7 linked regions of the Homo sapiens genome follow. The protein of the gene in region 1 purifies or fractionates together with the protein of each later gene. This does not show direct contact. Each region holds a gene or a part of one and is shown in the gene's direction. Other genes may lie near its edges. The genes, in order: GOLGA4, HIP1R, ASAH1, UBR7, TKT, THOC5 and ZER1.

Evidence for each region.
Region 2: the proteins of GOLGA4 (region 1) and HIP1R fractionate together in Homo sapiens (co-fractionation; one large-scale study listed by BioGRID). This does not show direct contact.
Region 3: the proteins of GOLGA4 (region 1) and ASAH1 fractionate together in Homo sapiens (co-fractionation; one large-scale study listed by BioGRID). This does not show direct contact.
Region 4: the proteins of GOLGA4 (region 1) and UBR7 purify together in Homo sapiens (affinity purification with mass spectrometry; 2 studies listed by BioGRID and IntAct, with this or other methods). This does not show direct contact.
Region 5: the proteins of GOLGA4 (region 1) and TKT purify together in Homo sapiens (affinity purification with mass spectrometry; one large-scale study listed by BioGRID and IntAct). This does not show direct contact.
Region 6: the proteins of GOLGA4 (region 1) and THOC5 fractionate together in Homo sapiens (co-fractionation; one large-scale study listed by BioGRID). This does not show direct contact.
Region 7: the proteins of GOLGA4 (region 1) and ZER1 purify together in Homo sapiens (affinity purification with mass spectrometry; 3 studies listed by BioGRID and IntAct, with this or other methods). This does not show direct contact.

Annotation. Positions count from the first base shown.
Region 1 is NC_000003.12:37,246,271-37,249,770, forward strand, and holds part of GOLGA4 (golgin subfamily A member 4), read left to right. Parts: intron 1-3,427; exon of another isoform or gene 3,428-3,472; intron 3,473-3,500. UniProt on the Homo sapiens protein: Involved in vesicular trafficking at the Golgi apparatus level. May play a role in delivery of transport vesicles containing GPI-linked proteins from the trans-Golgi network through its interaction with MACF1. Involved in endosome-to-Golgi trafficking.
Region 2 is NC_000012.12:122,859,457-122,863,461, forward strand, and holds the end of HIP1R (huntingtin-interacting protein 1-related protein), read left to right. Parts: coding exon 1-80; intron 81-315; coding exon 316-374; intron 375-590; coding exon 591-621; intron 622-691; coding exon 692-754; intron 755-966; coding exon 967-1,067; intron 1,068-1,222; coding exon 1,223-1,328; intron 1,329-1,459; coding exon 1,460-1,583; intron 1,584-1,674; coding exon 1,675-1,736; intron 1,737-1,851; coding exon 1,852-2,058; intron 2,059-2,249; coding exon 2,250-2,297; 3' UTR 2,298-3,505; downstream 3,506-4,005. UniProt on the Homo sapiens protein: Component of clathrin-coated pits and vesicles, that may link the endocytic machinery to the actin cytoskeleton. Binds 3-phosphoinositides (via ENTH domain).
Region 3 is NC_000008.11:18,057,800-18,060,107, reverse strand, and holds part of ASAH1 (acid ceramidase isoform a preproprotein), read left to right. Parts: intron 1-404; coding exon 405-536; intron 537-643; coding exon 644-767; intron 768-1,216; coding exon 1,217-1,273; intron 1,274-2,308. UniProt on the Homo sapiens protein: Lysosomal ceramidase that hydrolyzes sphingolipid ceramides into sphingosine and free fatty acids at acidic pH.
Region 4 is NC_000014.9:93,213,756-93,217,255, forward strand, and holds part of UBR7 (putative E3 ubiquitin-protein ligase UBR7), read left to right. Parts: intron 1-1,173; coding exon 1,174-1,227; intron 1,228-1,420; coding exon 1,421-1,526; intron 1,527-3,500. UniProt on the Homo sapiens protein: E3 ubiquitin-protein ligase which is a component of the N-end rule pathway. Recognizes and binds to proteins bearing specific N-terminal residues that are destabilizing according to the N-end rule, leading to their ubiquitination and subsequent degradation.
Region 5 is NC_000003.12:53,242,523-53,246,022, reverse strand, and holds part of TKT (transketolase), read left to right. Parts: intron 1-3,500. UniProt on the Homo sapiens protein: Catalyzes the transfer of a two-carbon ketol group from a ketose donor to an aldose acceptor, via a covalent intermediate with the cofactor thiamine pyrophosphate.
Region 6 is NC_000022.11:29,519,258-29,522,757, reverse strand, and holds part of THOC5 (THO complex subunit 5), read left to right. Parts: intron 1-1,658; coding exon 1,659-1,760; intron 1,761-2,653; coding exon 2,654-2,750; intron 2,751-3,500. UniProt on the Homo sapiens protein: Component of the THO subcomplex of the TREX complex which is thought to couple mRNA transcription, processing and nuclear export, and which specifically associates with spliced mRNA and not with unspliced pre-mRNA.
Region 7 is NC_000009.12:128,761,928-128,765,427, reverse strand, and holds part of ZER1 (protein zer-1 homolog), read left to right. Parts: intron 1-3,500. UniProt on the Homo sapiens protein: Serves as substrate adapter subunit in the E3 ubiquitin ligase complex ZYG11B-CUL2-Elongin BC. Acts to target substrates bearing N-terminal degrons for proteasomal degradation with the first four residues of substrates being the key recognition elements.

The DNA of each region.
Region 1 (3,500 bases):
CACTCCAGCCTGGGAGACAGAGCGAGACTCCGTCTCAAAAAAAAAAAAAAAAATATGTTTTAACAACAAATACCTATTTTGGATTTTTAAACTCCTTAAAGAACTAAGTCAATAAAAGAAACATCAAGAAGTAATACAGACATTGTAATTTCTTGGGATATATGTAGTACATGAATACAAATATTTTAAAACATTTTTAGCCTTTTCAAGTACTTCTAAAACTTAAAAATTATAGAAGTATAGATACAAAAGGATGAATACATGACTCCACTTAATTGAGGTACCTAGAGTAGTCAAATTCTTAGAGACAAAATAGAATGGTTGTTGCCAAAGGCTGGAGAGAGGAGAGAATGGGGAGTTACTGTGTAGTGGGTACAGAGTTTTAGTTTGGAAAGATGAAAACGTACTGGTGATGGATGGTGGTGATTCCACAACAGTGTGAATGTAGTTCATGCCACTGAATTGTACAGCTACAAATGTTTAAAATGGTAAATTTTATGTTATGTATATTTTTAAAAAATCAACATATACGCCCCTCCTTATGCCTGCAGAATCATCCCTTATTTTTTTCCCTCAGCTCAGAGATGGCAGCTGACCTCACTCTTTTAGAGTGAGACCCCAAAATAATAGTTTATGTGATATAAATTTAAAAAATAAAAACAAAAAAACCAGCAAACAGTTCCACAGATAACAGGGAAAAGAGTCCTTTCTGAAGGGACATAGCCTTATTGTAAATCCAAGTTTACTAAATAGTTTCAGTCTTGAAATTGGGGAAAGCATGAGTCCCAGAGAAAACATTTAGATCAGAAGGTAGTTTATTAAGAACATGATGAAAGGCTTTAATAAGTTTGGTACCTAAAATATAAAGGTTTATTTGAAGAATTAACCCCAAGTTACTTTGACTGCTCTTTTAGAACTGGGATGTCAAATTGATTTGGCAGTGACTTACAACAGTGCTGTGATGAGGATTCAATGGCTGTGTCTCTGCTGTGACTAATCCATAGGTGTTGTAGGGAGAGTGAAATGAACCAGATGTTAGTTATGAACAGTGAATGCCTAGGTCCTCTGCTGGATGTTGCATTTGCTTTGAAGGGTCTATGTAGTCCCTACACAATGGAGTTGAGAGACAAGTACTTTCAGTGTAATAGTGATATATACAGGGTGTTGTAGTTGTGCAAAATAAGGCATTTCTGGAGAAGATCAGGGTGACATCTGAGTAGAGCCTTGATGGATAATGAAAAGTCATGGTATAGGGACAAGGGATTCAAGGCTTATTCCTAAGGATGACTGGATTAGTTTTCTAATATTGCATAACAAGTTACCACAACCTTAGTGCCTAATAACCCAGTTATTATTTTATAGTTCTGTAGGTCAGAAGTCTGGCATGGCATGACTGGGTTCTCTGCTCAGGGTCTTGCAAGGCTAAAATCAATATGTTGTCCAAGCTGCTTTCTCATCTGGAGCTCAGGATCTTTTTGTATGCCCATGTGGTTGTGGTAGAATTCAGTCCTTTCTGGTTATAGGACTGGGGCCTTCATTTCTTGCTGACCACTTTCGGCTTAGAGGCTACCAGCAGCTCCTTGCCACGTGCCCCTGTAGGCATTTTGCTTTCTTTCAGGACAGCAGAAGTACGTCCCTCTGCCCTCTAGACCCATATTTGAAGGGCTTATGTAATTAGTTTAGACCCATCCAGGTAATCTTTTGATGAACTCATGGTCAACTGATTAGTAACCTAGTAACCTTAAATATGCCTTTAAAATCCCTTTGCCCTGTAATATAACAATTATGAGAGTGATAGCTCATTATATTCACAGGGCAGGGGTCATTTGGGGTCATCTTACAGTTTTGCTTATCACAATGACTAAAATGGTTTTTCTTAAGTTTTTGTAGAGTCAGGGTCTTACTGTGTTACTCAGGCAGTCTTGAACTCCTGGCCTCAAGTGATCGTCTTGCCTTGGCCTCTCAAAGTGTTGGGATTACAGGCATGAGCCACTGTGCACAGCTAAAATGGTTTTTCTTACACTGAAATTGAGTATAACTGTGGTCAGTTAATAATTAGGCAGTGGGCAATAAAATATTAATTGTGGGTCTGGATGTAGCTGTCAGGTTTTTTGGTTAACAGCTTAGAAAGCTGACTCAGATTTCTTATGGCTATTGCAATTAATCAGCTCAAGTTTGGTTTGAAGGAACCTAAATCCCTTTATATCTTGAAGTGAGGATAGCCCATTAAGGAACCAGGCACCTGGGACAAATGCTGAAGTACAGTTAGTTCTTTATGCACTGTTATATACTTTATACTCACATCCATTTTCTCATATAATTCTTACTCTTGTAACTCCAGAGGAAGATCCAGAGGAAGATCAACAAGTCATCAGGCCACGTTTTGCCAGATAGTACTACTTTTCTAGGGAGAGTATGTTTTAGAATCTGTTAAACTTTGTAAACCCCGTTATTTGATTTTTTTGTCAGTTTCTCCAGAGCTGATGAGGCTCTCAGTTACTGATTAGACCATATGAGGCCAAGGTGTAAGACGTAATGCCAATTTTTCAGATTTGCAGTGAGGTATACTTTTTAAGCAGTTGGAAGGTCACTGTCTAAGGTAGCCCTTTCCTGGCATCTGGATATTTGGAAAGCTGAATTAATAACCCAGAGATTTCTTAGACATGATAGAATCACAACAGAGAGAGTTGATTAGTCAAGAGGTATTTCCTGTGGTCTAGTAGTACTTTTCTAACTTTTTACCACCCAGTGACCATTTTATTAAAGGAGTTCTTAGATATAATCATTTATAAATACATAGATACAAAAGGCTGCCCCCATAGTGGCAGCCTTTGAGGCACCTACAGCCTTTGAAGCTGGCACTGGCATGGTTTGCAAATTATGGCTCTAGGTGTGGGAAGGGTTTATTGAATTTATCTCAACTTTAATGAAAGCTATTTCTGATGTTCTTTGAACATTTGTAATTTGAACGTGGTGTTCAAGGTAGGCTCAAACTTATTCCAAGACTGAGACTAATACTACACAGTGACTGTGCTTTCCCTTGCCATTTTCTAAGTACAATGTTGACTTTTAGTCACATATTTTCTAGACATTTAAACCATTGCTAAGGCTTCAACTTTATTTCACATTGATTGATTTTCTTGTTTATATGCTTTTTTTTTTGAGACGGAGTCTTGCTCTGTCACCCAGGCTGGAGTGTAGTGGTGCAATCTTGGCTCACTGCAACCTCTGCAGTTGAAGCAATTCTCCTGCCTCAGCCTCCTGAGTACCTGGGATTACAGGCGCACAACACTACTCTTGTTCATGTTTTTAAGTCCTTATTCTTCCTGTTTTGTCTTTGGTGGGAGAGGATATGTCATCCCTTAAGGTGACTTCTGCACATAGCTAATTTCATCTGTTGTATTGATTTTTCTGGTTCATCTTTTAGAAGGTGTTGGAGTTCTTGGTTGTAAGCAACAAAAAGTCAATCTAGGTAAGCAGAAAAATAATTTATTGAAGAC
Region 2 (4,005 bases), on another chromosome or scaffold:
AGGAGGAGCTGGGGGCCGTGGTCGACAAGGAGATGGCGGCCACATCCGCAGCCATTGAAGATGCTGTGCGGAGGATTGAGGTGAGCACGGGATCTGGGGACTCCCCTCATTCCTGTGGAGCTTTGGGGGCCGGAGGCCCCAACTGGGCTGGGTACAGGCTGCACCCACTCCTGCTCTCAGCCTCCAGACAGAGGACAGATGGCGTTTTCCAGGGGCCTGTGAGGTCAGAGCTGAGAGGGCAGGAGGCAGCCCTGGCTTTCCCAGGACCACGGTCCCCTCCTCCCAGCCAGCTCACGGCTCTGTTCTTGGGTGCAGGACATGATGAACCAGGCACGCCACGCCAGCTCGGGGGTGAAGCTGGAGGTGAACGAGAGGTGAGCCCCCCTTCTGTCCCCCCAGGCCCAGCCGAGGTGGGCTCCCCGTGGCCCCTAAGGTTCTGCCCCCAACTGTTCTGCTCACGGGAAAGGAAGGCCTGGCTCAGAGCAGACACTCCCTCCCCACCTGCTGAGCCCTGATGTGGCCAGGCCCGCCATGGCGTCGTGTGGGCTGCTCTGCAGAGCGGCAGCTAAGTCTCTCCTTCTCTCCCCCAGGATCCTCAACTCCTGCACAGACCTGATGAAGGTGAGGGGCTGTGACCCGGGGGGGTCTGCACCTGGAGGGCCACCAGTCATTGCTGTCTTGGTCTCGGCAGGCTATCCGGCTCCTGGTGACGACATCCACTAGCCTGCAGAAGGAGATCGTGGAGAGCGGCAGGGTGAGGGGCCGGCGGCAGCAGGGCACAGTCCACAAGGAGCCTGACCCCCAGCCTAGGCCACCCTGGGCATGAGACCCTCCACCCCCTACCACAGGGAGGCCTCAGGGATGCGCCCTATGGCCAGAGTGAGGGGGAGAGGGCCCTTGAGGGCCACTTTCCACCTTTGGTGTCCTTGACTGGCATGTCCTGCCCTGTTCTCCCGTCGCCACTAGGGGGCAGCCACGCAGCAGGAATTTTACGCCAAGAACTCGCGCTGGACCGAAGGCCTCATCTCGGCCTCCAAGGCTGTGGGCTGGGGAGCCACACAGCTGGTGTAGGTTGCCCTGGGTGGGGGGGGGCAGGGGGCTGCTTCCTGCCAGTTGGAGCAGTTTGGGGTTCAACAGGGTGCAGGGAGTAGAGGGGGTGTGGAGTGGTGCCAGCCGTCCGTGGGGTCAGAGACCCTGGCCCTGACTGGCCCTTGACCCGCAGGGAGGCAGCTGACAAGGTGGTGCTTCACACGGGCAAGTATGAGGAGCTCATCGTCTGCTCCCACGAGATCGCAGCCAGCACGGCCCAGCTGGTGGCGGCCTCCAAGGTGAGCTTGCACGCCGACAGCAGCACACTGGGCTCTGGGCCCAGCTTGGCCTGGGCTGTGGCTGCCAAGCCCAGGCCTGCTGCTGCCCTGAGCTGGGAGACCTGGGCCCACCCTGACCTCTCGCCCCTCAGGTGAAGGCCAACAAGCACAGCCCCCACCTGAGCCGCCTGCAGGAATGTTCTCGCACAGTCAATGAGAGGGCTGCCAATGTGGTGGCCTCCACCAAGTCAGGCCAGGAGCAGATTGAGGACAGAGGTGAGTGCCAGATGCCAACGGGGGCTGCTGGCTCCCGAGGCTGAATGGGGGTGGGTGCCCAGATGTTCACCCCCTTGTCCTCCGGCCACAGACACCATGGATTTCTCCGGCCTGTCCCTCATCAAGCTGAAGAAGCAGGAGATGGAGACCCAGGTAGGCGCCCATGGCTGCCCCGTGACCTCTGAGCTCATCCCTCGGGCGAAGCCTGGACCCAGGAGAGAGCTCCCTGGGGAGGCTGGGCTGGGCTGAGCAGGCCGTGTGGCTACAGGTGCGTGTCCTGGAGCTGGAGAAGACGCTGGAGGCTGAACGCATGCGGCTGGGGGAGTTGCGGAAGCAACACTACGTGCTGGCTGGGGCATCAGGCAGCCCTGGAGAGGAGGTGGCCATCCGGCCCAGCACTGCCCCCCGAAGTGTAACCACCAAGAAACCACCCCTGGCCCAGAAGCCCAGCGTGGCCCCCAGACAGGACCACCAGGTGCCGTCTGCACTGGGATGGGGGAGTTCCTGGACGGGGGTGCTGTCCCCAGCCCTAGAGGGGCACATGGTGCACGTCCCTGGGGAAGTCAGGGACCACTGACAACATGCAGGGAGGAGCTTGCTCAAGGGAGAGGTGGGGCCCCAGGTGCCTGGCTGTGACCACTGACCCCCCACCTTTAACCCCTGCAGCTTGACAAAAAGGATGGCATCTACCCAGCTCAACTCGTGAACTACTAGGCCCCCCAGGGGTCCAGCAGGGTGGCTGGTGACAGGCCTGGGCCTCTGCAACTGCCCTGACAGGACCGAGAGGCCTTGCCCCTCCACCTGGTGCCCAAGCCTCCCGCCCCACCGTCTGGATCAATGTCCTCAAGGCCCCTGGCCCTTACTGAGCCTGCAGGGTCCTGGGCCATGTGGGTGGTGCTTCTGGATGTGAGTCTCTTATTTATCTGCAGAAGGAACTTTGGGGTGCAGCCAGGACCCGGTAGGCCTGAGCCTCAACTCTTCAGAAAATAGTGTTTTTAATATTCCTCTTCAGAAAATAGTGTTTTTAATATTCCGAGCTAGAGCTCTTCTTCCTACGTTTGTAGTCAGCACACTGGGAAACCGGGCCAGCGTGGGGCTCCCTGCCTTCTGGACTCCTGAAGGTCGTGGATGGATGGAAGGCACACAGCCCGTGCCGGCTGATGGGACGAGGGTCAGGCATCCTGTCTGTGGCCTTCTGGGGCACCGATTCTACCAGGCCCTCCAGCTGCGTGGTCTCCGCAGACCAGGCTCTGTGTGGGCTAGAGGAATGTCGCCCATTACTCCTCAGGCCTGGCCCTCGGGCCTCCGTGATGGGAGCCCCCCAGGAGGGGTCAGATGCTGGAAGGGGCCGCTTTCTGGGGAGTGAGGTGAGACATAGCGGCCCGGGCGCTGCCTTCACTCCTGGAGTGAGTTTCCATTTCCAGCTGGAATCTGCAGCCACCCCCATTTCCTGTTTTCCATTCCCCCGTTCTGGCCGCGCCCCACTGCCCACCTGAAGGGGTGGTTTCCAGCCCTCCGGAGAGTGGGCTTGGCCCTAGGCCCTCCAGCTCAGCCAGAAAAAGCCCAGAAACCCAGGTGCTGGACCAGGGCCCTCAGGGAGGGGACCCTGCGGCTAGAGTGGGCTAGGCCCTGGCTTTGCCCGTCAGATTTGAACGAATGTGTGTCCCTTGAGCCCAAGGAGAGCGGCAGGAGGGGTGGGACCAGGCTGGGAGGACAGAGCCAGCAGCTGCCATGCCCTCCTGCTCCCCCCACCCCAGCCCTAGCCCTTTAGCCTTTCACCCTGTGCTCTGGAAAGGCTACCAAATACTGGCCAAGGTCAGGAGGAGCAAAAATGAGCCAGCACCAGCGCCTTGGCTTTGTGTTAGCATTTCCTCCTGAAGTGTTCTGTTGGCAATAAAATGCACTTTGACTGTTTGTTGTCACTGATGCCCCAGAGGGAGGGGCTGTGCCTGGCTCTTCATTCCTCCAGGGACACGTGTTCCCTTGTCGGCCCTGGCCAGGTGCTGGGGCGGGGACCTATTCATGTCTGCATTTAATGCTAGAGTACTTGGGACTGCAGAAAAGCTCAGCAGGGCTGTCACTGGCTGTGTGTGTGTCCGCCTTCCATCTCTCTCTCGGGGGATTTATGGGCCTCAGGGCCCTCCTTTTACACAGGAGGCCAAGAGCCAGCTGCCTCCACAGAGGCCACTTGCACTCCCAGCCTCAATGCCCACAGCTTCCCTGGGGCTCCTAGCAGTTGCTGACCCCCTCAGTGTGTCTGAGACCATGCCTGACTGACAGTTGCTAAGCTAAGGTGGGGACCCTGACTCCCGGCTGGCTTGGACTTGAGCCATGGCCACACACAGCCTTTGCACTTACCGGAAACCTGGAAAGGTGTTCAGTCCCTGGGTGTGTGGCAGCCTCACAAGCACCCACTTTACCC
Region 3 (2,308 bases), on another chromosome or scaffold:
ACATTTCCGTTCTAAGTCATCTAAAAATGTTTCCCACCATCATCCTCAGCAAACTAACACAGGAACAGAAAACCGAACACTGCATGTTCTCACTCATAAGTGAGAGCTGAACAAAGAGAACACGTGAACACAGGGAGGGGAACATCACGCACCAGGGCCTGTCAGGGGGTGGGGTGAAAGGGGAGGGAGAGCATTAGGACAAATACCTAATGCATGTAGGGCTTGAAACTTAGATGATGGGTTGATGGGTGCAGCAAACCACCATGGCACGTGTGTACCTATGTAACAAACCTGCACGTTCAGCACATGTGTCCCAGAACTTAAAGTAAAATTTAAAAATAAATGAAGTTATTTACTAAAATTAAAAAAAAGTTTCATTTTTCTTTTTAAATGTTTCTATATAGTTATGAAGAAGCCAAGAATTTATTGACCAAGACCAAGATATTGGCCCCAGCCTACTTTATCCTGGGAGGCAACCAGTCTGGGGAAGGTTGTGTGATTACACGAGACAGAAAGGAATCATTGGATGTATATGAGTAAGTAGGTTTGTTAAAGCAAAAGAAGTAGAAACAAAAGCATACACTGATATACTTTGAGTTTTAAGGCATGTAGCCTAAGAGGGAATCTCTCCTTTTGTATCTAGACTCGATGCTAAGCAGGGTAGATGGTATGTGGTACAAACAAATTATGACCGTTGGAAACATCCCTTCTTCCTTGATGATCGCAGAACGCCTGCAAAGATGTGTCTGAACCGCACCAGCCAAGAGGTACCTTTGCAGGGTCATCTATAGAAAGAAACTGTTGCCATTAAAGATTCCCTTGGTTCTGGCATTTTTCTTTGGCCTTCAAGTAATTTATAAACGTCCTATTTTTCATAGTATCTCTAGCCACTCTCCACTGATTTTTTTGTTTCGTTTTCTTAACTTAAAGAGCAAAATTGTGCTGTACTTTCCTTTTCTGGTTCTAATGCTGGATACCACTCTGAAGTTGAATAACAAACAGGCAAGAATTTAAAAAAGGGGAAGGAGAGAGAGGAAAGTAATCCATTAAAACTGTTACCTGTGTTTCTAACAGTGACTCCCACAGAAACTCCACTGCGGGGATGGAGGGGAGGTTGATTAAAGAATGTCTTGGTTTCTGGTGGCCCATGTGTGTAGATAAGGCTGTTGGCTTCTGTATTTAACTTACTGAACAAAACTATTTTCTTGTGTTTTAGAATATCTCATTTGAAACCATGTATGATGTCCTGTCAACAAAACCTGTCCTCAACAAGGTATTTTAAATGTTATATGTATATTTGCCTTTTAGGGAAAGAATTTGGCCCTATGTTTTATCTTTCTCTGTTATCTTTGATCAGTTTGAGCACAAAAGGTGTGTTCAGCTTAGGACTGATTTTTTATTAAAAAATGTTTTTGTGTGGCTAAAACTGTATTTTGGAATACAAGAAAGAAATTGATCACTGAGGCTTGATAGGTCAGAATATTGTTTATAGCTTTATTTACATAGCATTTGAATTAAGGCTAGCATTTTACTCTTATTGGTATCTATTAAAAATCTCACACTATATAACTAACACCTAAATGTCAACAAAACAAAGTCTGCAGTCCATTTTCAGACAGAGCTCTGTGTCTTGGTGGGTTCGGGTTTCCCTTAAACTTTACTACATCTGTTTATCTTTTCCCTACACTGTAGTTTTAAAAAAATGCAAAAAGTTTCCTATCATCCCACCACTCGCTAACAATCATTCCCTGAACGTTCTGAATATGCCCCCCTAATTTTCCCATTTGTTCCTTCTTTTCTTGGTCCTTCTCCACAGCTCTCCCTAAAGTAAACATGCCGCCTTTACCCTGCCAGGACAAATCCCTCCGGCCTTTAGCATCCAGGTCACCCTGGCTCTCACAGGAAGCCTGCCTTCAGTTCACGGGCCCTGCCATACTTGCGTTTTGCCTATACCATCTTTGAGCAAGTCACAATCTCGTGACTTGTGTTTGGGTGTGTGCCTTGTGATCTGGGTGCCTGCAGTTTCCCCCACTGTATTGGAAATGCTTTAAGGATAGGGATAGCCAAAGCTCCACGGTTTTTACTCCATAGGACACCGGCAGGTCTCCCAGGACTGCCAGCTGTGCGTCAAGGAGGGTTAAGGCAGTCTTAAAGCATTGGGGGTGGAGCAATGTGCTGTCAGGAATAAGCTCCTATAAGGAGCTGGAGATTCTTTCCTGAGCCTGTTTATATTCATTACCTGAAACAGTGATCCTGTTGAAGTTGTTTGCTTTAGTTATTTGGTGAGACTTTAGCTAATTTTATATGA
Region 4 (3,500 bases), on another chromosome or scaffold:
TCTGGGTATTTACCGATTTGAAAGAGTACTTTTTGTCTTTAGAGATATTAGTCTTCTGCCTTCTTCCTTGCTTTCTAATTGCGTTGGAACTATAATTATTGAACCAAATTATATAGAGGGACAGATTGAAAGTCTCTTTGAGTTAACAAAAATAAAACCTTAAAACTGGATTTTTTTTTTCTTTTTTTTAAGACGGAGTTTCGCTCTGTCACCCAGGCTGGAGTACAGTAGTGCGATCTCAGCTCACTGCAACCTCTGCCTCCCAGGTCCAAGCGATTCTTCTGCCTCAGCCTCCTGAGTAGCTGGGATTACAGGCACTCGCCACCATGCCCGGCTAATTTGTGTATTTTTAGTAGAGACAGGATTTCAGCATGTTGGCCAGGCTAGTCTTAAACTTCTGACCTCAGGCGATCCACCCACCTTGGCCTTCCAAAGTGCTGGGATTATAGGCGTGAGCCACCACGCCCAGCCAAAACTGGATATTTTAAGGCATGTGGTAAAGTGTTACAGCTCCTCCTGTTCCACAATATGTGCTTTTTTATTCCCTTTAAGAAGCCTACGATAGGAAAAGGACAGAACAACATTGGGATGTTAATTAACAGTTATGAGAGCCTGGGAGTAAAAGAAAATCATCCCCAAAATAGTCTATGTCCTTTGGTATATTATTTTCCTAGGGCCAGCATTTAATTATTTAATTTATTCAAATTAGAGGAGTTATCTATCGAGGTTTTTCATAACATTTACTTTTCAGTGTACTTGGCAGGATGGTTCTTCTGCAGCAGAAAGGCATTGTCTAATTTTTCAATATTATAAAGAAGGCTGGAGTGAACATCCTTATACAGTAATACAACTGAATATTGTATTAAAGGATGGTGTGGTAAAAAGTCCCAGTTGTCACTGTCTGCACTGGTCCATTCACATTACTTGCCTGGGCCTGAGTTTTGTATAAAATGGGAATGCCCTCCTTGTCTACACAGTTTTGTGAGAATCAGATATTAAGTAATGGATGTGAAAGAGCCTTGAGATTGTTTGTAAAGTGCTTATCTCAATGTAAGCCTTTGGAACACCAGTTCATGTAGAACAAATATTTAGTATCTTATTTTACTGTGTGCCAGGTTATTTCCATGTTCCCGAATTCAATGTAATCCTTAACAAACTGCTTTTCTCTGTTAGATTCCAGATGAGATGATCCAGTGCGTAGTCTGTGAAGACTGGTTCCATGGAAGGGTAAGGAAAATGTTCCACCTTTTGAAACCATTGTTGTCACAAAAAGATAAAGGTTATATTTTACATTATAATTAGTCTTCTAAAAATAAATTCTAATGATATGATCAGTGTATTATTACAGTATTTATAAAATAATGGGCATTTTGGACAATTTGGCAATCACAAGAAAATTTTTGGTGTTCTATATTCACAGCATCTTGGTGCCATTCCCCCTGAGAGTGGGGATTTTCAGGAGATGGTATGCCAGGCCTGCATGAAACGTTGTTCTTTTTTGTGGGCTTATGCTGCACAATTGGCAGGTAGGTATCTTTGTGAAGTTGGTGTGCCACAAACTTGTGCTTGTGAAATTTGTATGTTCAATTCAGAATTTTTAGCAACTATTTTTAACTGGGCTCTGTGGTTATAAAATAGTATATGTTCTGGCCAGGCATGGTGGCTCACGCCTGTAATCCCAGCACTTTGGGAGGCCAACAAGACAGATGGATCACCTGAGGTCAGGAGTTCGAGACCAGCCTGGCCAACATGGCGAAACCCCATCTCTACTAAAAATATGAAAATTAGCCTGGCGTCACGGCGCTTGCCTGTAATCCCAGCTACTCCAGAGGCTGAGGCAGGAGAATCACTTGAACCCAGGAGGCAGAGGTTGCAGTGAGCCGAGATCACGTCACTGCAGTCCAGCCTGGGCAATAGAACAAGACTCCATCCTCAAAAAAAAAAAAAAAAAAAAAGAATAGTATGTGTTCTTTCTCCACAAGGTGCATAGATTTGTTGGGATACTACCAAAAACAAATTTATACTTAAATGATATGATGCAGAGTATTGATGAGACCAGAGTTAGAGAATGGAGGAGGCAGTTTTTGAATGGGATTTTGAAAGATAAATAGAACTGAAATAAGTTGTTAATTCTAACACATGGTATCAGTTGGGGAGGAGGTGGTGTCTTAGTCTGTCTGGGGTGCTAAAACAAAATACCTTAGGCTGGGTAATTTATAAACAATAGACAGATATTTCTCACAGTTCTGGAGACTGGGAAGTCCAAAATTCAGGTGCCCGCAGAGTCAGTGTTTGGTTGAGGGCCCATTCCTCATAGACAGATCCTTCTACGTGTCCGTACCTGTTAAAAGGGGCAAACAAGCTCGCTTGGGCCTCTTTTATAAGTCAGAGCCCTCGTGAATGGGATTAGTGCCTTTATAAAAGTGGACTACAGGCACACACTACCATGCCCTGCTAATTTTGTATTTTCTGTAGAGACAGTGTTTCACCATGTTGCCCAGGCTGGTCTTGAACTCCTGAGCTCAAGTGATCCACTCATCTTGGCTTCCCAGACTGCTGGGATTACAGGCATGAGCCACCATGCCCAGTCTATCTGGTGCTTTTATTATACACTAAGAAATTAAATCAAAACAACTAATTAATGAATGGTCCTGAGGCATTAACTATCTTATTGGTAATGCTTTATGTATTTCTTTATTTTTAAGGTGGCAGTTACTCATGGTATCTGCTGCTTAGGCTTCATAATTTCTTGCCTTTCTCATCTTTAGAGACCAGTTCACCATACAAACCATGAGCAGCATAGCCATACCTCTGATCTCATCCTACAGTTTAGATTTGCCTTAGAGTTCTTTTGTTTTTCTGCCTTTTTTTTTTTTTTGAGACAGAGTCTCACTGTGTTATCCAGGCTGGAGTACAGTGGTGCTATCTCGGCTCACCTCAACCTTGCCTCCTGGGTTCAAGCGATTCTTGTGACGCGGCTTCCAGAGTAGCTGGGACTACAGGCACATGCCACCACACCTGGCAAATTTTTGTATTTTTAGTAGAGACAAGGCTTTTACCATGTTGGCCAGGCTGGTCTCAAACTCCTGATGTCAAGTGATCCACCCGCCTCGGTCTCCCAAAGTGCTGGGATTACAGGCATGAGCCACCACGCCCGGCCAGTTTGCCTCAGAGTTCTTAAGTGCTGCTCCCTTTCTGTTCACACCCTTTCCAGTGATCTCTCTCACTGTCCACAGATGCTGAACCTATCTATGTGTAGTTCTCATTCATTGGGTTTTTTTGTTTTTTCAAGACGGAATCTTGCTCTGTTGCCCAGGCTGGAGTGCAGTGGCACAATCTCTGCTCACTGTAACCTATGCCTCCTGGGTTCAGGCAATTCTCCTGCCTCAGCCTCCCAAGTAGCTGGGATTACAGGCATGCACCAGCATGCCTAGCTAATTCTTCTATTTTTAGTAGAGAAGGGGTTTCACCATGTTGGCCAGGCTGGTCTCGAACTCCTG
Region 5 (3,500 bases), about 16 Mb from region 1:
GTGCTGGGATTACAGGTGTGAGCCACTGTGCCCGGCCTGTTTGTGTTTCCTGTAGAATGTGTGGAACATGTGAGTACATTTCACTGTATGTTCCTACTGGTGAAGTTGCTGGGAGTTAAGGGATGTGCATCTTCGGCTACTGATCTGGTTTATTTTTAATGCTTGAAAGATTACTTAGGTTCTCTATTTCTTCTTGAGTCAGTTTTGGTAAATTATTTTCATTATTGTTATTATTTTTTAGACAGAGTCTCACTCTGTTGCCCAGGCTGGAGTGCAGTAGCATGATCTCGGCTCATTGCAACCCACGCCTCCGGGGTTCAAGCTATTCTCCTGCCTCAGCCTCCCAAGTAGCTGGGATTATAGGCATGTGCCACCACGCCCGGCTAATTTTTGTATTTTTAGTAGAGACGGGGTTTCACCATGTTGGCCAGGCTGGTCTTTGAGCCGCTGACCTCAGGTGATCTGCCTGCCTTGGCCTCCCAAAGTGCTGGAATTACGGGTGTGAGCTACCGCGCCCAACCTGACATCCATTATCTCTTGAAGGAGCCCATCTGGAGGGTGAGGGAGCCTCTCTGGCCTTTTCTTGCATAGAAACCTGTGAGCAGGTGGAGTGAGCACTAAAGCGATGACAGAGATTCTCCTGGCCAGGGGACATCTGGAAGAATATATATTGTCCTGGAGGGGAGTGGAGAGGGGGCTTTTTTTTTTTTTTTTTTGAGATGGAGTGTTACTCTTGTTGCCAAGGCTGGAGTGCAATGGTGCAATCTTGGCTCACTGCAACCTCTGGCTCCCAGGTTCAAGTGATTCTCCTGCCTCAGCTTCCCGAGTAGCTGGGATTACAGGCGTCCACCACCACACCTGGCTAATTTTTTGGTATTTTTAGTAGAGATGGGGTTTTACCATATTGGCCAGGCTGGTCTTAAACTCCTGACCTCAGGTGATCCGCCTGCCTTGACCTCCCAAAGTGCTGGGATTACAGGTGTGAGCCACTGCCCCCAGCCTGGAGGGGGCTTTAAGAGACTTTCTTTGGGCCTAGCTCTAAGCTTGCCACACCACCGTCACAGGTTGAACTAATTGGGGTTGTAAGTGGACTGTTTTGGTCAAGGCAGGGTGTGTTAGTTTTTTTTTTTTTTTTTTGAACAGTCAAGTGTGCTTGTTAGCCCTGTTTATCACAGAGTCAGGGTATACAGTAAGTACCCTGTAGCCCCTCCACCGTGCTCCTCACCCCATCTCTCGCCAGTGTTCACCCAGAGTTGTCACACACAGCACCACGGGATGGGGCGTCCACCTGCAGTTGTGCAGGCAGTCTGGAATGGCAGGAAAAACTCTGGCCCTGAGGAGGCCACAGGCTTAAATGTATGCCTTTGGCCCCAAAGGCCCGCTAGGAAGTTGAGCTTGAAAGTAACTGTCTCCTGTGTGCTCAGTGCTTTACAGTGTGCAGAGCCCGGTCTCAATCCTTGGTGTATTTCTCCCCTCTTGCCTGCCTGTGGCCAGCAGGAGTGGGTGGTGTCACCATCCCTGCCTGTAGATAAGAGCTGCAGGTGCTGAGAGGGTTGGCAGTGGTGGCGGCTGCTAGAGACCTGGGTACTGTGCATGCTGCGTTATCTCACTGTGTCTCCCAGACACTCTCCCAAGTGAAGAAGCTGAGCCCCGGGTTGACGAAGCACTTGTTGAAGTCACGAAGCCCAAGTGGCACAGCTCACCTCCCCAACCCAGGATGCTCTGCCGAGGGAGAGCCCCAAAAGCTCTGGGGAAGAGTGCGGGGACACCTGGCTCCTAAGCGTTCTTCTTTTGTGCGTGTTTACTTGGTAGAAGTGAAGAGAGTGGCCGCAGCAGGCTGGATGCAGCCTTTGGAAGGAATGAAAGGCTGCAGGCCTAGCAAGGAAGGCTTAAAATCAGCTGCACGTTCTACTTCTCACCCTTGGTCACCTCGCAGCTGACCTTCCTCTCTCCACGTTTACTCTATCTGGGCCTGGGTGTGCTTCTGCCACACACAGAAAGAGCCTGTGCCACACCATTTCTCCCTGGAACCCCTTCTGGTGGCCAATGGGACTGTCACCCCGGGGTGTCGAGGTGGATGGGGCAGGTGGAGCCCTGCACTTACCGTCCTTGTTCTTCCCCGGAACAGTTTGGCCCAGTGTCCACCCACATCCTTCTCCCACCAAGGATCCCTCCTAATGGGACCATGGCTTTAGAAACAGGACCCCTCAGGGCCGGGGCTGCCCTTGGAGGTGGGAAGGACGAGAGGTCAGCCTGAGGTGACCTCCAGTTGAAGCTGGCCCTGGGAGCGTGGGATTAGGGTGGCCTCCAGTTGAAGCTGGCACTGGGAGCGTGGGATTAGGGTCCCTGCCAGGCAGAAAAGGGTTTCTCGTTTACCATGTCCTCCCCTCCCTCTTTCAGGTGTAGTGTCTTTTCCCATGACCGGGAGTTCATAGAAATAGTTAAGTATAAGATGATCGTGTGCGAGAATGTTGGTACTAAACCAGCATGGACAGTTTTCTGGATTTCTCTACTACTAACTTGTCTGCACTGAGCGTGACTCACCCCTAACCTGGTGGGAGCGCTGATTGGAGGGGCGGGAGGCTGGCGGCGTGAGCTCCAGATGGTGCATGTGCCCTTGGGCTTGGCATGCGGCGTGTCTTCGTGTGAAGGACCTCTGGGAGCAGCGAGAGGGCTGAGCTGAGCTGAGCTGAGCTGCATGTGGAGGGGCCCTCCCGGGAGGCCTGTGCCCTGAGGCTGAACTTTTAACAAAACCCTGGGACCAGAGGGCTTCAGGGCTGATCAGGACCTGCAGCGCTTCCTGCTGGGAAGCAGGAAGCAATAGAAAGTTTACGCTTTCTATTGCTCAGGAGCCGCTCAGTGATTAAAACAAGTCTAAAAAGCCAAGGGGACTCCGTGGCCCCACCACTCCCAGGCTGGAAGGCAGGTTCTTGCTTTGTCAGCCCTTCCTCAGCCCTTGTCCATAGGCAGAAGGGGTTTTTATTAATACATGATTGTAGCCTTGTAGGAGATGAGATTATGTGTCTTGCTTTGAAAATTCTACACAAAAGCCTGTTTCCTAGTTGCTACAGCAGCCCTCAAACTGCCCATTTCTAAAGCTTTCAAGTAGCCCAGTGATGCAATTGGAAAGCCCAAGGCCCAGTTTTTCAGGCTACCACACCCCATGCGTGGAGGCTGCTGGGAGGTCTGTGGTAACTCCATGAGCCTCAGTCCCTTCCTCCCTGCCCCATGGGCTCAGAGGCCCAGCACCCCTGGGTGCTGAGAGGGCAGGGTGCCCTTCACAAGTGGGCAGTGTCCGGGCAGTCCTGTCAGGATGTGGGGTCAGTCGTAGGAATGCCGGCACCCCTTGGCTGCTGAGTCCTTAGACTCCTGGGGGCCACTAGGTGGGAACTGGGTTCTACCTGACAGCAGCTGCCCCCAGCCGCAGTGCTAGCCTTGGGCTGAGTCTTCTGTGCTAGATCTCTCCTGGGCCCCTCCTTCCTTCTTACTCAAGTCCAACC
Region 6 (3,500 bases), on another chromosome or scaffold:
GTGCTGGGATTACAGGCGTGAGCCACCACGCCCGGCCACTAAGGTTTTTTTAATCCCTTACTTTTTATCAAAATTTTATAACAAAGATTTGACTGGTTGAGAAGTTTTTTTGTTTTGGTGTTATATTTTTATGACTATAAATAGCCTTTCCTTTTATGTTCATCATTTTTACCAAGTTCAGTTGTCTTAGCCATATGTTGCAGATATAAATTTTGCCAAGAAGGTGATTCCTTCATCAGGTTTTGTCAATTAATAACCTTCATCGTGGGCAGTTTTAGTTCTGTTTTATTTATTTACTAATAGATTGAATCAATCTATTAGTAATAGTCCCTAAACACTTGCTAAAAGACTGAAAAGTTTTATTTTATTTTATTTTATTTTATTTTATTTATTTTTTTGAGACAGAGTCTCGCTCTGTCACCCAGGCTAGAGTGCAGTGGTGCAATCTTGGCTTATTGCCAGCTCCGTCTCCCGGGTTCACACCATTCTCCTGCCTCAGCCTCCCAAGTAGCTGGGACTATAGGCGCCCGCCACCATGCCCAGCTAATTTTTTTTTTTTTTTTGTATTTTTAGCAGAGACGGGGTTTCACCGTGTTAGCCAGGATGGTCTCGATCTCCTGACCTCATGATCCGCCCGTCTCGGCCTCTCAAAGTGCTGGGATTACAGGCGTGAGCCACTGTGCCTGGCCTGAAATGTTTTATTTGTTTGGTAGTCAGTTCTCCATTTGAGGTGGTGAAGGGGGCAAAGACCTTGGGGAACAGGGATACTCAGTGAGACACAGTAGGGAAGAGCTGGAAGCCTCCACTGTCCTAGCATGGAGTTCCTGAAGGCATGCTGGGGCCAAAACGCAGGACCGGCACGTGCTGCCCAAGTTGCTCCTGACGTTATCCATGGAAAGATGAAGGAGAACCCCCTTTGGTTCAGGGAAAGAATGGGCCTTGTCATCCTTTGTGATAAAATTACTACATTACCCTCCCACATTATCTCTTTTTTGCTTGTCACATTTAATGACAAACTGTGCCCGAACCATCCCAGGTGGGTGGCAGTGGCGTCACTATTTCTCTCCGCTTGTAGCTGTGGGTCTCCAGTGTATGTGATTGTATCTTTTTCTGGGAACATACAGGGGGCCTTTTCCTGTGATGAGCATAAGATTTGGTCAAAGTGAGATAGACATAGCACCAAAGCTATACACTTGTTCTCTCTGTAGCAGAAAGGAGTCTGTTCTGCTTTTATGAAAATTGAAATTATTTCTACTGATGGTGTCATGGGACTTTGCTCCCCTGAGGTAAGGCCTTAGGCACCATATAAATCTTGAAGGGATGAGTTTTTTAAAAATTAATGATTAAGAGTACTAGTCTGTTTGATCAGACAATATAAAGCCACCTCTAGCACTTACTAGCAGTGTGATCTTGAATAAGCCATATCTTTTAAAGCCTTGAGTTTTTCCTCTATAAAATGGAAATGATAATCCTCCCTCATAGGGTTGTAAGGATGCAATGACCTCAAGCATATAAACGGTCTGGCCCACAGAAAGCCTTCAATAAATGGTGGCATTGGTCATCAGTGAGACGTGGCATTACCATCCCCAAATGCCCAAGCCTATGTTGAAGAAAGATGTTGGCTGCATTCTCACTGCTTACTGTTTTTCCTTTTCTAGTGACTTGCTGTCTCCTGACTCAGTCCTGAGTTGCTTGTATCCTGGGGATCATGGAAAGAAAACTCCGAATCCAGCCAATCAGTATCAGTTTGATAAAGTTGGGTGAGTCAGCAGTTTCCTCCTCTCCGAGCTCTCTACTTCTGAGTTTCTCTGGTGGCTCAAGCTAAATGCTGGAGACCTGTTAGGGCCAGAGGTGACCCAGAGGATAGGAAAGACCACAGGGTAGAAGGAAATGTTTGTTCTTTCTTGCTTACAAGGCAAAGGGAGATCACAAAAAGGGTGGAAGGATCAAAACTCGGAAACATGCTGGGTGTGGTGGCTCACGCCTGTAATCCCAGCACTTTGGAAGGCCAAAGCAGGTGGATTCCTTGAGCTCAGGAGTTCGATACCAGCCTGGGCAACATGGCAAAACCCTGTCTCTACAAGAAATACAAAAATTAGCCAGGCATGGTGGTGGGCATTTGTAGTCCCAGCTACTGGGGAGGTTGAGGTGGGAGAATTGCATGAGCCCAGGAGGTTGAGGCTGCAGTGAGCCATGGTCATGTCGCTGTACTCCAGCCTGGGGGCAACAGAGCCAGACCCTGTCTCAAAACAAAAACAAAAAGAAAAACAAAAAAAACCCTCTGGAAGCATAATAATACGTGATACAATAAAAATGTTTGACATTTTAATTATCCGAGGATTAATTTTTAAAAGATTTTCTAAATTGGTAGACCAATAAAGACATTAGTACACTGCCTTTGTATTTGATATTTGCTTATAAGTTGAAGGCTGCAAGAAGAAAAGGAAAAAGAGGAAAGTGAATGTGAGAGAGATGAAATTCACAGTAGGGAACTGACAAAGTTGAAGGGCTTTGCCAGCAGCCTGGCTGTGAACATGGCCAAACCTGCAGGACTGGATGGTTTGTGGGGCATGGGAGGGTGGGAGGAGGCTGTATCCTGGGACCACAGCAGAAATGACTTACAGCACAATTTTATTTATCTTCTTTTCTGCAGCATCCTGACTTTGAGCGACTATGTACTTGAGCTAGGTCACCCCTATTTGTGGGTGCAGAAGCTGGGTGGCCTCCACTTCCCCAAAGAGCAGCCCCAGGTCTGTACACTGATCTCATCTAGTTGGCTGAGGAGCTTACCTCTTCTCTTCCTGTATAGACTCTAGAAAGGCCAGGCCAGGTGCGGTGGCTCATGCCTATAATCCTTGTACTTTGGGAGGCTGAGGCAGGTGGATCACCTGAGGTCAGGAGTTTGAGACCAGCCTGGCCAACATGATGAAACCCCATCTCTACTAAAAATACAAAAAATTAGCTGGGTGTGGTGGCACGTTCCTATAATCCCAGCTATTCAGGAGGCTGAGGCAGGAGAATCACTTGAACCAGGGAGGCAGAGGTTGCGGTGAGCTGAGATCATGCCACTGCACTCCAGCCTGGGCAACAAGAGCAAAACTCCGTCTCAAAAAAAAAAAAAAAGGCCTGTCATGGCCTTTGGAGTTTTGAACTGGCAGAATGTGTCCCCTCAGGGCTGTGACCTGTCTTCTATCCACTCAGGACACTAAAATGTCTTAGACTTACAAGAGTTTACGTACCTTTTGCATTTTCTCTGAGCCTAGTAGCCTTTTAGACCCAGGCAACTTGAGTCCTTGCTCTGGGACTCATGTCTGCAGGCTCTGCTGCCCTTGTTCTTGTGTGCAAGTACCAAATATGAGGCATGAGCAGAAATCCAGGGGGCCTGGCCCCTTAGCAGAAGCCTGCCTTTCCTCAGGAGTTGGACACAGCTTCTCAAGAACGCAGCATATTGTGTTGTTTCTGCCAGGACTCAGCGTCTGGCCTGTCATAGCAGATAAACC
Region 7 (3,500 bases), on another chromosome or scaffold:
CTGCTTAGTTGTGTATGCGTCAGTATCTTCATCAGAAAATGGGGTAATAATCTCTATCTTGCAGTACTAGAGTAAGGGAATTCCAGCCACAGCAAACCTTTGTTCTATTAAACACCAGGCATAAATTGGGCACCGAAGTCAGACACCAAGGATACAGGTGCGTGCGCGCTTGCGCACGTGTGTGTGTGTGTGTGTGTGTGTGTGTGTGTGTGTGTACATGTGCATGGATGCAGGCATGCAAGCAAGCATACAGCTTCTGTCCTCCCAGAGCTCACAGGCAGTAGGAGGGTGTCAGTTGACAAATTGTTATGTAAATGATTAATTAGTTGCAAGTACAGGGTACTAGGAAATATTTTGTCGGTTGAGTAAGAGACTCGAGGGAGTAAAGCCTGTAAGGAGCTTAGGACCACATCTGGAAGCAGCCAACATGGACGTGGTATGGCGGTGCCTTCTGCTGCTGCTGCTGCTGGTGCTGTTTTTCTCTCTCTTCTCTCCCACTTCCTTCATTCCCCAGGATGTCGAATGTTCATGATAGACCTAGTATTAGAGAACATGCAAGAAAAGGGATGGAGAAAGACACAGGGTTCTCCCAGTGTGGTGGTCGGTCATAACCAGAGCTCCCTCTGTCCTCAGTTGCTGGAATTCCAGATGGCCTGTGACTGCCCTGAGAATGACAATCCCTAAGGAATGGAGTAGGTAGAGTGGAGTAGGTAGAGATGGCTGCCTCTGGCAGGTGCCAGGCCCGCAGCTGGATGGGTCTCAGGGCATGGTAGCCCCGGGGCCCTTCAGTCTCTGTGCCAGGATGTAAGATGGCTGCTTCCTCTTCCAGCTCATTCCAGCCCTGAGTGGCAAGGTCAACACTGCTAAGGGGAGGCTAGCAGATGGCGCCATCTACCTGGCTTATGTTTTGGGGGCTTTTGGTGACCGTGACAACTGACGTGGTGGTGTTTCTTCCACTTGGGGAGCATGGTAAGGGCAGAGCAGCTGCCTAGGTAACTGGGCTCAGACCTGCAGAAAAGGCAAAACCCCAGTGGCTCTCCCTCATTCAGAGCCTCCGAGCCAAGAGGCATCATTTGCAGCCACTGGGCGCCCAGCAGTGTCCTGAGTGCAGCAAGCAGGGAGAATGCGAGAGTGTACTATACCTCCCAGGCCTCGTGCAGACCTCTGATGGCGAGTACTTTGTCATTCCTTCCACAGGCCTTTGTTGAAACCTCACCTTGTGGCAGGCCCCACATTGAGTGTTCAGTGCTTCCTTTGTTCATTTAGCAAATAGTCATGGACCTGGGCCCGTAGTGCCAACGTCCCATGCACCCCCTCTCCTTGCAGCTTAGGTACTTCTTTGCTTCCTCCCAAAGCGCCTTCCCCTTCTCTCCCCTCCACCAGAGTTAACTAGGACTTATCTTTTGGGTCCCAGCTGAAATGTCACTTCTTTTTTTTTTTTTGATGGAGTTTTGCTCTTATTGCCCAGGCTAGAGTGCAATGGTGTGATCTTGGCTCACTGCAACCTCCGCCTCCCGGGTTCAAGCAATTCTCCTGCCTCAGCCTCCCGAGTAGCTGGGATTACAGGCGTGCGCCACCAGCCCAGCTTATTTTTGTATTTTTAGTAGAGACGGAGTTTCACCATGTTGGCCAGGCTGGTCTCGAACTCCTGACCTCAGGTGATCCACCTACCTCAGTCTCCCAAAGTTTTGGGATTACAGGTGTGAGCCACTGCACCTGGCCTGAAATGTCACTTCTAAGGATACCTGCTCTGACTCCCCAGTCCAGGGCAAGTCCCCTGATTGGGCATCCAGAGCCCCAGGCCCCTTCTCCTGCAAGACACTGGTCCCAGTTACGCGACAGGCGCTTATGGGCCCTGTAGGTGGATCTGTCTCCCTCCGGAGCCAGTACGCTCCATGTGGTCAAGGACCTTGTCCGGCTCGCTCACCAAGGACCCCCAGTGCTCAGCAGGGACTGAGTGAGCAGGTCCAGGGAGGTGATACCAAACAAGACAGCCTGGTTTTGCCCTCATGGACCTGGCCATCCATCAAGGATGCTGAATCATCAAAGCCACATCGTACCAAGTGTTCATTGCTGTGGTAGATCGGGCCTGTGGGGGGACTCAGCAGGCACACCCTGGTGGGTTAAGCATGGCTTCCCAGAGGAAGTAACTTTGACACTGGGACCATAGGTATCAGCTACGTGAAAGGAGAGTTCAAAGATCATGTGGGCTGGAGTGGCCAGGAGATACTTCCTGGAGGAAGGACATGGAGTGTATTTGGGTAGGGGAGGGGAGAAGGCAGTATTTAAATTAGAAAGTGCAGTAATTAGTTGAATTTGGATGGTCCTGGTTGAAAGAGAACAGACTGGGCAAAGGTCTGAAGGTGACCTGTGCCGAGGGCCTTTTGCCAGGACAGTGAATGATGAGGCCAGGCTGGCTGGAGTAGGGGGGCAGTGGGGACCAAGTAGGCCAGAAAGCTGGCTGTAATTCCGGTGGGCTTGAAAAGAGTTGCTTTCCAAGAGTGGGGACTCTCTGCCAGCAGTGCTCCCTCTGGTTCCAGTTTCCCAGGCAAGAGAGGCTGCTGGGCTCTTAAAGATCTTGAAGCAAATGAAGGCAAAGGAAGGCCATGCCCGGGGCCCAGGCATCCTGGCTTTTGTGCCTTCCCTCGAGGGTGCCATGCTGCCAGTGGGACAGCTGACACAATGAGCCTTGTTGTGGGAGACCCAGGCCGGGGAGCACAGGCCCGGAGCTGGGAGCCAGGGCAGATGAGGTAGGAGAAGGTAATGATTATAACAACAACATAATAACGGTTGTCTTTATTGAGCAATGACTACATGCCAGACACCGTTCTAAGCCCTTTTGATATTATTCCATGGAATCTTCACACCGTGCTGGGGATGAGGTATTGTGCTGCTTCTATTTTAGAGGAAAAGTGACTGAGGCACAGAGAGGTGGAGACACTTGCCCAAGTTTGTCTCCTCGTGAGCAGCAAGGCTGAAATGTGAGCTATGCCTGCCTGAATCCACAGCCCATCCACACACAGTCCCCAGTAGACAGTGGTGCCACAGTTGAACTCAGAACTGGCTGATTCCAAAGCCCAGTGTGCCCTGTGGCTTCCCGCTGGATTTCCTGAGCAGTCTGGAAGGTTTACAAATGGGCACAGAGGGAGGCTCCCAGAAGCTGGGACAATGCTGGGCCCCAGAACTCCAGAACCCTCTAAGTCAGGGGTGTCCAATCTTTTAGCTTCCCTGGGCCACACTGGAAAAGGAACTGTCTTGGGCGACACGTAAAATACACCAACACTAACAACAGCAGATGAGCTAAAAAAAAAAAAAAGTCCATAAATGTCATAATGTTTTAAGAAAGTTTACAAATTTGTGTTGGGCTGCATTCAAAGCTGTCCTGGGCCACATGCAGCCCATGGACCACAGGTTGGACAAGCTTGCTCTAAGAGATGTGAGGGATTCCACGAGACCAGGTTCCAGTCTAGTTTACACAGCTCCCTCTGTTTGACCTTGAG